Regions from separate parts of the Homo sapiens genome. Here region 2 is linked to region 1. The links come from fine-mapping of genetic effects on gene expression. A gene starts in region 1. The other region holds a variant in brackets. All regions are shown on one strand. Distances are from middle to middle.

Region 1 (5,372 bases):
AATATGGTATCATCTCAATGGTGTAAATAATGCATTAAAAATGGGCTGGCAGGAAATATGCCAACCTGGTTACTGCCTCTAGGAAGAGCGGGTAGGAATAATCATCTTTTTGCTTCTTCATTCTTTTCCATTTTCCAGTTTTCTGTAACTATGTATTATCAGGGGAAAAAGCATACTTTTCAAAATGAATTTCATATTATAGGAGAAATAAAGCCAGTTATTTCCCCCAAATAATCCCTGGCCGAGGAGGACCCTCGAGTCAAATAAACAGATATATAAAGGATTCTCTGTTACTGTTAAGACTTTCTTTGCCCAGCTGTGAGCTCCCCAACTCCTTGCTCCACACTTCAGGACCAGGACCCTGTGAGGATTGAGATGGAAACACGTGGATGGGAAGAAAGGGTATTTTCATCCTTTCTTGAGTTACATTGATTCTTTTCCCTGCTTCTGAATGACGCTGAGGCCTCCTAGGCGCTACCATCTTTATTTCCTACCATCTCTTCCTGTATATGCTCTTTGCTCTTGTTTTGATATTCCTTCCCTGGTTCCTTTCCCTTCTCCCCTCTCATCCCACTCCTCAAGCTCCTCCTCTTCCTTTCTTCAAGTCACCCTTGTTGGAGGCAGGAGAGATTTGCAGGATGGGAGGGGGAGAAGGTTGCGTAAATGAAAATATTCCAATTCTGTAGTTGAACACTTCCAGGCTCAAGCTGTGGGTCATGACGATGGCTGTCCAGGGAAGGAAGCAAAAGAGAGGATAAAAAATAAGAAAAGCAACCCCTATTGCAAACGTTAATACATTTCCAGTGATTATCTCTTGATCATGATGGGTATCACAGTGTGGAAGACTCTGTTGTCACAGTCACTGACATCAGAAAAAAATCCCCCAAAGTCAGTGTTACAGGTTACTGTCCAGTGTATCATTATCATCAGGATCAAATCCTAAAAACTAAGACAAATTTTTTAAAAATTAAGGGGCAATTTTCTTTTAAAGTATTCTTGTAGGAAACCACAACATCTTTTTTCACAAGAACAGAGGCAAAGAAAGCAGTTTCACCTAAAGGCACAATACCTGCCAAAAAACCACTCCACTTCTTGACCTCACTGGGGACGTCCTCTTCGCAATTTCTTAGTTCATTGGGAATTTTGCCAGCGCCAAGGCCAACAACATTCCTGAAGATGTCATTTCCACCACAGCACACCCTCCCCTATTTACTGGCTCAGTAAACACTGGGGTAATGAACTAATGAACAAGTGAATGAATGAGAAGGCAGCAGCACTCTGCCGGGGTGCTTACCTCTTCTGGTTCATGGAGGCCACCTGGAGCCACTCGTTGGTGCTGGGGTTGTAGGAATGCGCAGCGGAGATCTCCTGGCTAGTGATCCTGTACCCGCCCACTATGAAGAGGTAGTTGTCCAGGATGGCAGACCCATAGCCCCTGACATTGACCAGGTCGGGAGGAAGGTTGTTGGCCAGCGGGAACCAACGCTCAGTCATCTCCTCGTACCTGAGCATGGACGGGGGCTCCCCCTGGTAGGGGTGAGGGGCCAGGGGTCCCCCCAGGAAGTCCCCGAGGGCCACGAGGACAGGAGTCCCAGTCATCCGGGCCTCCCTCAGCCTCTGCTTCAGGCTGACATCCCCTGGAGCTTGGGGAGGAGACCCCAGGAGGTGGAACTGGGGCTTGCACAGCACCTCGTGGAAGTGGACGACCATGAAGCGCAGGCAGGCCTCCTGCAGGTCGGGCAGCCCGTACACCTGCGCCAGGCGGTACATCTCCAGGCAGTTATTGAGCCGCACCTGGGACAGCAGCAGCTGCAGCAGGGACGTGACCTGCAGGAAGGAGGCCGCCTCCACCAGCTCGGACAGCAGGCTCACCTCATCCATCTCCTCGTCCTCGTCCACCCCGCCGCCCTTTTCCCCGCGCGGGCCCAGGAGCCAGCCTTCGCGGGCCCCGCCGGCGTTGATGAAGTCCAGCACCAGCCGCAGGCCCGGCGCGCTGAGGCCGCGCAGCTGCTGCACCTCCGGGCCGCCGGCCTCCTGGCTCAGGGCCTCGCGCATGCCGGAGCGGTAGAGGGCGCGGAAGTAGTCGCTCTGCTCGATGAGCTTCCTCTTGCTCACCGGGTAGCAGCGGTCCTCCAGGCGGATCTGCACCATCTCCTCGGCCGACATGGCTGGGGGCCCCGGGGCGGCAGCGCTCACCGCCAGATCTGCGCGCCGGCCTCCCAGCCCCTACGCGCGCGCCGGTTCCGGGCGGGGCGCCGAGGGATGGCGGCCCGGGAGGAGCGGCGAGGTGAGGGCCGCCCGCGCTCGCCCGGCCTCTCCGGCGGCCCCTCCTCCCGGGGCCCGCTCCCGCGAGGCGGCGGCCCTGCCCTTCTCCTTTCCCTCAGCGCCAAAAAAGGGCCGGCGGAGCGCGGCGGGCGTCCTCGCGCGGGCTCTCCCGGGCGGCGCCAGGCGGGAAGGGAATTCCAGCTCCCAGCCAGCAGCCTCCTCCCCCGCCGCCCTTCTCACTTCCGCCCGCGGGACCCCAGCCGCCGGCCTGACCTGCCGGCTGGATCCGGCTCTCGGGGAGGCCCGGGAAGCTGCGGGCCCGGGCGCCTCGGCTGCGGACGCGCAGCTGCGGGAGGCGGAGGGCGCGCGTCCCCGCAGCCTCTCCGCCCGCCCGGGGCGCGCCGGCTCCGCCGCTTGTTGGGGGCTGCAGTGATGCTCCGGGGTACCCCAGGGAGAAGAAATTCGTTTTCTCTCCCACGCTGCTTTACACGGGCTAAAGAAAAAGAAATGAGCGTGGGAGGAAAGGGAAGGATGGAGTCTCTGGTCCAGGGAGACAAAAAGGCATCAAATATGGGGTCGTCCTTCTGGCCCAGTCCGGCATCGAGTGTCAGTGGGCTGAGGCACGCAGGCGATCTATGGACAGTTGGTGGCAATGTTGGTGGCACGTAGAGCTGATTCTCTGGTAGCGTGGTCGCGTAGGAGCCATCTTACAGGAGGTCCAGGCAGATGGCAGCAGGTTCTCAGAGGAATCGGGTTGGGAGGCAGGGGAGCTTGCATTTGCCACTGGGGCCCCTTATTCTCCCTAAGTTATTAAAAGAAAGATGAAAGCGCAGCCCGACTAAATAAAGTTACATCACGTGGCTTCTGGTTTTAAACCATGTTTTCTATGAGCCATTGCTTTTCTACTTCAGTCCAGTCCATTACGGAATGTTATCCTGGCGCAAAAGATCTGACAAAATTGGCTCATAAATGTCTGCAAGAAGTAGCTTTTCTTGTCACCCCCTTTCTCCACCTACCCTGCCCCCATCATCTGAGGACTATTAAGAGAGACCACACGTGCGGTTTGGCTGAGCGCGGTGGCTCACGCCTGTAATCCCATGACTTTGGGAAGCCCAGGTGGGCAGATCACGAGGTCAGGAGTTCGAGAGCACCATGGCCAACATGGTGAAACCCCGTCTCTACTAAAAATACAAAAATTAGCCGGGCGTGGTGGCACGCGCCTGTGATCCCAGCTACTCGGGAGGCTGAGGCAGGAGAATTGCTGGAACCCGGGAGGCGGAGGTTGCAGTGAGCCGAGATCGCGCCACTGCACTCCAGCCTGGGCGACAGAGCGAGACGCCGTCTCGGAAAAGAGAGACCACTTGTTTCCTATGTTCTCTCACTGAACATTGCAATTAGAAGGCCCACCCCAAATAATAATAGGAAGGACTTTTTGTCTTGCTAATGAATTCATCCCAGGAAGGGGGTGGGGGGAGAAATATATTGTTTGGATTATCTTTGGGTAGGAGAAGGGAGAAGGATTGGGAGGAAGCAGAGGGTGTGTTCACTCTTATCTTACAAAACAAAAACAGAAAACCTTGAAAACTTACCCCAAACCAAGATTTGAGAACCACCTATGATAAACAGTCCTTAACTTGGAGAGAATATGTGTTTGGTTTTTTTTTTTATTATTACAAGCTTCAGCTTTCTTCTTGAATGACAGATTGTTAAATAATATCTTCTTCATAAGTACATTTCCCCTATTTAAAGAAGATACATCCTACCATGCTAACATTTTACCTTAGGAAGGAGAAAGGGTTAAAAACCAGAGAACTAAAAGAAAGTCAAAGGTGAAACATGAGATCCTTTCAACATAGTTTGGTTACATTTGTGGTTCTTACTACGAAATTTATCTGCTTCACAGAGAGGTGTTGTTGTCATCTTTTACTTTGTTTATTATTATTACTTGGGAAAGGAGGTTTATCTTTTTATTTTTTAGAAAAAAAAATGCATTTTTTTTTTTTTTTGAGACAGAGTTTCCCTCTTGTTGCCCAGGCTGGAGTGCAATGCTGCGATCTCAGCTTTCTGCAACCTCCACCTCCCGGGTTCAAGTGATTCTCCTGCCTCAGCCTCCGGAGTAGCTGGGATTCCAGGCATGAGCCACCACACCCGGCTAATTTTGTATTTTTAGTAGAGACGGGGTTTCACCATGTTGGTCAGGCTGGTCTGGAACTCCCGACCTCACGTGATCCACCCACCTCGGCCTCCCAAAGTGCTGGGATTACAGGCATGAGCCTCCATGCCCAGCAAAAAAAAATGCATTTTTTTTTTCCATAGAGATAGGGTCTTGCTACCTTGCCCAAGACAGACCTCAAACTCCTGGCCCCAAGGGATCCTGCCACCCCAAGTGATCCTGCTGCCTTGGTCTCTCAAAGCACTACTGTGCCTGGCCTATTTTCTTTATAATAATGCTAGGAATAAGGAACTAAAAAATAAAAGACATAGAAAATGTTCTAGTAGATTCTGGCCTCCCTGGAAAAAAATGAAGGAAATAAAAATGGATCTATGACTTACTCAGTTGTTTTCTTGGATTCTATAAAAAACATTCATCTCTTCACCTTGTTTCACCTGGCCTTTAAATCGTTACTGATAAAACTCCATTTTCACATCAACCCTTCACACTTCCATTCTCTATGAGGGTGCAGTGAGACACGATAAGCTTTGGAGCAGGAGGTGGAGTGAGTGATCAAGCATTTAGCAGCTTCTTTGGGATGGTAGAGTGTAACATCCAGTATTAAGCATCAGGCTGGGGAATTTTGCTGGGATGCGTCCCCTGTATCAAAGAGACTTGGACCTACGATTTTTCTATGCCTCAACCGGCAACAATGCCAGATTCAGTGGGTCAGCCACAAAGAACAGGCTCTCAGTCTCTCCTCTGTCTCTTGAATCTTTCACCAATGGATGCTTTTGTTTCCCAGCCGTCATAGATATGCCTCAGACTGGTATTTTCTTGCCTTTTTAAAACAGACCAAAAAAATCATGCTCAAAGAATGATGTGCATTAGAAAGGCAATTCAAGCACAGTAACATTATCAGGGTAAGATGAGGTTGGACAGGGAGTCTGGGGTA
Region 2 (5,372 bases), 26 kb before region 1:
AAGACAAAGGAATCAGGTGATTCCCGGGATTAGAACAACACTGTCTTGACTCTACCACTGAACACTTGGCTTTGCTCTGAAGAATCCCCCTCCCTCAATGGGTACGGTCTCGGTGAGACTTCCCAAGGGGCCCCATCCCATCCCCAGCCTAGGGCTGGACATGTGACCCCAGCAGGACAATCAGGGTGCTCACTCCTTCCATTTCCATTCAGGGCTCATGGCACGAGACCTAAAGTGGGTTGGAGTTTCTGTCCCATTGGTGGAGCCCCGAAGAGATTGTCCTTGAGTTCCCAACTGCCAGAGCTGCCATCGTTTCTGTTTCTTTCATGTCCTATTAAAGATTGAGTTAAATCCTATCTTTTTAGTAACTTTTCTTTCCTTCCCTTCCTTCCCTCTTTCCTTCCTTCCTTCTTTCCTTCCTTCCTTCTTTCCTTCCTTCCTTCCTTTCCTTCTTTCTTTCTTTTTTCTTTCTTTCTTTCTTTCTTTCTTTCCTTCTTTCTTTCCTTCTTTCTTTCTTTCTTTCTTTCTTTCTTTCTTTCTTTCTTTCTTTCTTTCTTTCTTTCATCAGCTAGAGTCAGTGTCTGTTGGTTTTTTAAAAAATCCTGACTGGTGGGTACCTTCCAGGTACTGGAAGGTGACAGAAATTAGCCTCCATGGGACACTGAACACTGACAGCACTGAATTCATAGACATTATTTAACATCTGTACCTGCTAACTCATGCACTCAGCTAAGAAAGGTACCGTGTTTTTTCATTAAAAGTTGAAATCAAGGTAAGGCTAACGGTCTACGGCCATACCACCCTGAACATGCCCGATCTCATCAAACTATGGCTAACGGTATAGGATTTACCTATCCTGTTCTTTCAGACTTGTAATTATTAAAATGACATTATTAGGCATTAAAATGACACGCATCATGGGGATGTGGGGAGGTGGGGAAGGTAGGCAACTCAAAGCAAACTTCATTTCAGGCAGTGCGCCCCTTCTCAATGAATGGCATGTGAAGCAAACAGCACATTTTAAAAGGTTTTTGAGATAAGATTTAGTACCTGTTTTGAGCTGAACGGTGCCCCCTACCTCCTTAAAAAAAAAAATCAGCGTATCTTTTTTTTTTTTTTAAGGAGGCAGGGGGCAGAGGTTGCAGTGAGTTGAGATCAGGCTACTGCACTTCTGCCTGGGAGACAAAGCAAGACTCTGTCTCAAATAAATAAACAAAACCAACAGACAAACATATACATACACACCAGATTGTATAAGAAAAGTCACCACCAGCCACAGACCACTTGTTATTACAGTGCCTCTTTCTAGATCTCTTGCCTCTGACTTCTTGTCTTCCTACCCAGCAGCACCTCGAAATCCACCAGGGCTGAAAGTAGCCTGAGCAGCGGAATCTCTGCCCCTAGACTTCCTCAGGAAACCCTTCACAGGCCCACATGGGGGTCAGACCACACTTTCTGACAACAACATCGCCTACCTTTTCTACATCTCTTTCCGCTGGCATTCAGATTCTGAATAACTGTGTATTTGTGCCATTCAATTCAGATTTTAGAAAAAAAAAAAAACAGTTCTACGAGTGACAATAATATCACTCAAGCCCTAATATTGATTCTAGTGATGAGAAAATAATGAAGCGACGGGGCTCCATTCCCATTTGCCTGCGGGGCCCCCTGAACTCCTAGGCGTTTGCCTCACTACTGTCTGTGGGCAAACTTCCTTTCCAGCCACAGCCAGAATTCGAAACTTCTCCCATCTGCGTGACGCATTATGTACGTTGGTAGAAGAGAAAAGTACACTGTTTTCCTAATAACCGTTGTTCCTCAAGAAAACACTTTTTTCCTATAAGGAAATTTTAGGGCTACATAAACCAGAAACCTATATATTTTCAGAAAACCCAAGGAGGCTTCAAAACCTTTCCAATTTAACAAATACTTCCAGAATCTGCTGTGTTACATGGCTCTGGTGTATGTCCTGACATAGAGTGATAAAAAGATTAATGAAACACTCTATCATCAAGGAAACTACAGTCTAGAAGAGGAATAAGACAAGCACATAAGAACTGTTCTATGAGACAAATATGTGTGCCCTGAGAGAGAGATAGCTGAAGCTGTATCCAGGAACAAGTATTTTCAGAAGGCTTATCTTCCATAACACTGTAAACCAACCAGCTAGCTCACTTACCAAGACTAACAGCTTCCCCATCAAGGCTAGCTTAGGGGATGTGAGGGTGATCTGCCTGTGACAACTCTCACCCCACTGATCGCCAGGGTTGATTCGACTGATCTGGCTGGCTAGATGGGTGACCCCTTCCTCCCTCACTGCTCCATGTGCGTCCCTCCCGAAACTCCACGCTCAGTCGAAGAGGACAACCATCCCCAATAGAGGAGGACCAGTCTTGGGTCAAGGGTGTATGAGTAGCTGCGCTCCCCTGCTGGAACCTCCAAACAAGCTCCCAAGATTAGCTTTGGGACTCTCACTGCATTGTGCCCACAAAGTCCTATGCCCAAAGTTCTTGTATCAGAAACTCTGCCCAGTGTTGAGACCTACTTCAAAATCACCCAGCCCAGGCCCCAAAACCTGACATTCCCCTTCTGAGGCACTACTAATTCTTTTTCAAGGTGGTGTCCTCCCTGACCACAGTAAGCATAACAAACTTGGCTTTGCTTGACCAACAGGTTATCTAGCTGTTCCTTTTGCAAGTCAAGAGTCAACACCCCTTTCTTCTAGTAAGCAGACCCCTATTATCTGAGATGACTTCATTCCACGTGGTTGAACTGGAGATTCTCCTCCATGCCCCTGGCCACAGTGGTTACCTCAGAAATGGACACATTACCTGGGCTGGTTCAAACAAGTCTTAATAAAGCGTTTGGTACTTAGGATGGGATGTTGCAAATATCTAAAGCTGAAATATGGAGCCAGCTAAAGCAAGGGAAGGGATGGGGTAGATAGAATCTTCTCATCCCTGACCTTATGTGGAAAGCAAACAACTAATTATGCTGCTGTCTCTTGGGCCTCAGACCACTCAAGTTGGCTCCTTTAGGAGAAGTGAAAGACTTGTACCAGGATCTGGAATTTGTTAGCTAC[G/C]TCTTAATGGCTTTGCTAAGATATTTTAGGAAAGGCATAAGCTTCCAGCCAAGCTGGCCCATTTGAAGGTATAAAGGAAACAGCTTTGGTAATAATAACAACAGCTCACATTCATTGTGTGTTATGTGCCAGATGCCATTCTGAACACATCACATGAATTTTCTCATACAATTTTTTGCAACAGTTTCACAGGGTGGATACTATTGTTATCCCTACTTTACAGATAAAGAAACTGAGGCCTGGGGAGACAAAGTAGCCTAACCAAAGCTACAGCTAGAAAGTAGCAGAATTGCCAGGCGCAGTGGCTCACGCCTGTAATCCCAGCACTTTGGGAGGCCAAGGCGGGTGGATCACGAGGTCAGGAGTTTCAGACTAGCCAGTTCGAGATCAGCCTGGCCAACATGGTGAAACCCCATCTCTACTAAAAATACAAAAATTAGATGGGCGTGGTGGCACACGCCTGTAATCCTAGCTACTTGGAAGGCTGAGGCAGGAGAATCACTTGAACCCAGGAGGCGGAGGTTGCAGTGAACTGAGATCGCACCACTGCACCCCAGCCTGGGCAACAGAGCAAGACTCCGTCTCGGGAAAAAAAAAGAAAGAAAAAAGAAAGACAGTAGCAGAATTAGGAAGCAAAGTCTTGCTCTAGAGTCCATGCCTTTCACCCTTTTGCCTACAGGCAGCAGACTGCAGAGGATCAAACATGTGCCTGGCAGAACTATAGGAGCCAGGTTCTCTGCCTTAGTTAAAGGGGCATGAACAGCCAGAAATATAGTAAGATCGGGCTCCCGGAGGAGGCAAACTAATAGAGTGGGGGCCCTGGCGCAGTGGTTCACATCTGTAAATCGCAGCACTTTGGGAGGCCGAGGTGGGAGAATCGTTTTCTGAGACCAACCTAAGCAACATAGCGGGACCGCATCTCTATAAAAATTTTTTTTAAAAAAATTTTTAATTAGCTGGGTGTGGTGGCACATGCCTGTGGTCCCAGCTACTCAGGAGGCTGAGGTGGGAAGATCACTTGAGCCCAGGTGGCCGAGGATGCAGTGAGCTGAGATCGTGCCACTGCACTCCAGCCTGGGTGACAGAGCAAGACCCTGTCTCCAAAAATAGAGAAGGAGGAGGAGGAAAAGGAGGAGAAGGAGAAAAAGAGGAAGAAGAAGAAGAGGAAATAGGGTGGGTATTTTATTCCCCAAACACCTCCTGCCACACAGAGGTAATCATTTCTACTAATGCTGCAGTCCCTGGGATGTAGTCTGGGAACGGCAGACCCCTATGGTTTCAGATTATCCCAAAGCTAAGAGAGAGATTGACGCCATCAAACTGAAGGTGGAGGCATGGGCAGGAAGCCTGTGGCTAAGAGACAGACATCATAAAGATGGGCTCTAAGTTAAAGAAACTGGGCTCCTCTAAATCTGGGCCTTTATCCTATGGAGTTGCCGGAGATCAGATTTACCAGCATCTGAGTTTTTATTTATTTATTTTTTTAATAGAGACAGGGTCTCATTGTATTGCCCAGGCTGTCCTTGAACTCCTGGGCTCAAGCAATCCTTCCACCTCAGCCTCCCAAAGTGCTGGGATTATAGGTGTGAGCCACCGTGCCCAGCCTCAAATGGGTTTTTAAAGTTTTATTGCCAAGGAAATGTTGATGGCCTACAAACAGGAGCCTAGGATCCCTGGCCTCAACAGAAGTGTTCAGGTGCCCCTCCACACACCTCCTGTAACCATGCCCACAGGAAGAGGCTGCCACTTCACCCCCAGGCAGGTCAGCCATGGAACGCGCTGCTGCAAAGCAGGACCAGAGGCTCCCAGACTGGCTCACTCGGAAACCCACTCCTCCACTAGCAAGAGAAAGGATACCCTTTAAACCAGTGACCACTGTATGTAGTTTTCCCTTCTCCTCTTTCTCAAGTGGCAATTTGTAACCTACAGTGCCTCAGTTTCCTCAACTGTAAAGCGGAGGATATTTGTATTTACCACATGGGATTCATGTGAGGATTAAATAATTTAAATAAAAAATGCTTAGAATAATTCCTGGGAAAAAAAAAAGTGCTCAGTTAGATTTGGGTGTCGCTCTGCTAGGTCAGCCATCCTCCTTCTCCTCCATCAGTGTGTCCTGAGTGTGTAGAAAATGGTTGTCCATTTATTTCATTTTTCTTGAGTTGGGGTCTTGCACTGTCTGCCCAGGCTGGAGTGCAGTGGTGCAATCAGATCTCACTGCAGCCCCAAACTCCTGGGCCCAAGCAATCCTCCTGCCTCAGCCTCCCAAGTAGCTGGGACTAGAGGCATGCAC

What was found. PIP is the estimated chance that this variant, and not a neighbour inherited with it, causes the effect.
Region 2: its variant is fine-mapped to the expression of KLHL42 in aorta (GTEx, PIP above 0.99).

The regions. Positions count from the first base shown.
Region 1 is chr12:27,777,125-27,782,496 of GRCh38, reverse strand. It overlaps KLHL42 (kelch like family member 42), which reads right to left and starts at 2,264. Exons shown (of 3, transcript NM_020782.2): 1 at 1,295-2,264. The coding sequence starts at 2,166. It overlaps MANSC4 (MANSC domain containing 4), which reads left to right and starts at 2,261. Exons shown (of 4, transcript NM_001146221.5): 1 at 2,261-2,287. RefSeq lists an enhancer at 1,748-2,247 and silencers at 2,113-2,422, 2,443-2,662, 5,095-5,295.
Region 2 is chr12:27,803,234-27,808,605 of GRCh38, reverse strand. It overlaps the pseudogene RN7SKP15. Among named protein-coding and RNA genes, the nearest start is that of MANSC4, 26 kb to the right of the region's middle. RefSeq lists enhancers at 982-1,151, 3,522-3,691. The variant G/C (reference allele first, on the strand shown) is at 3,083.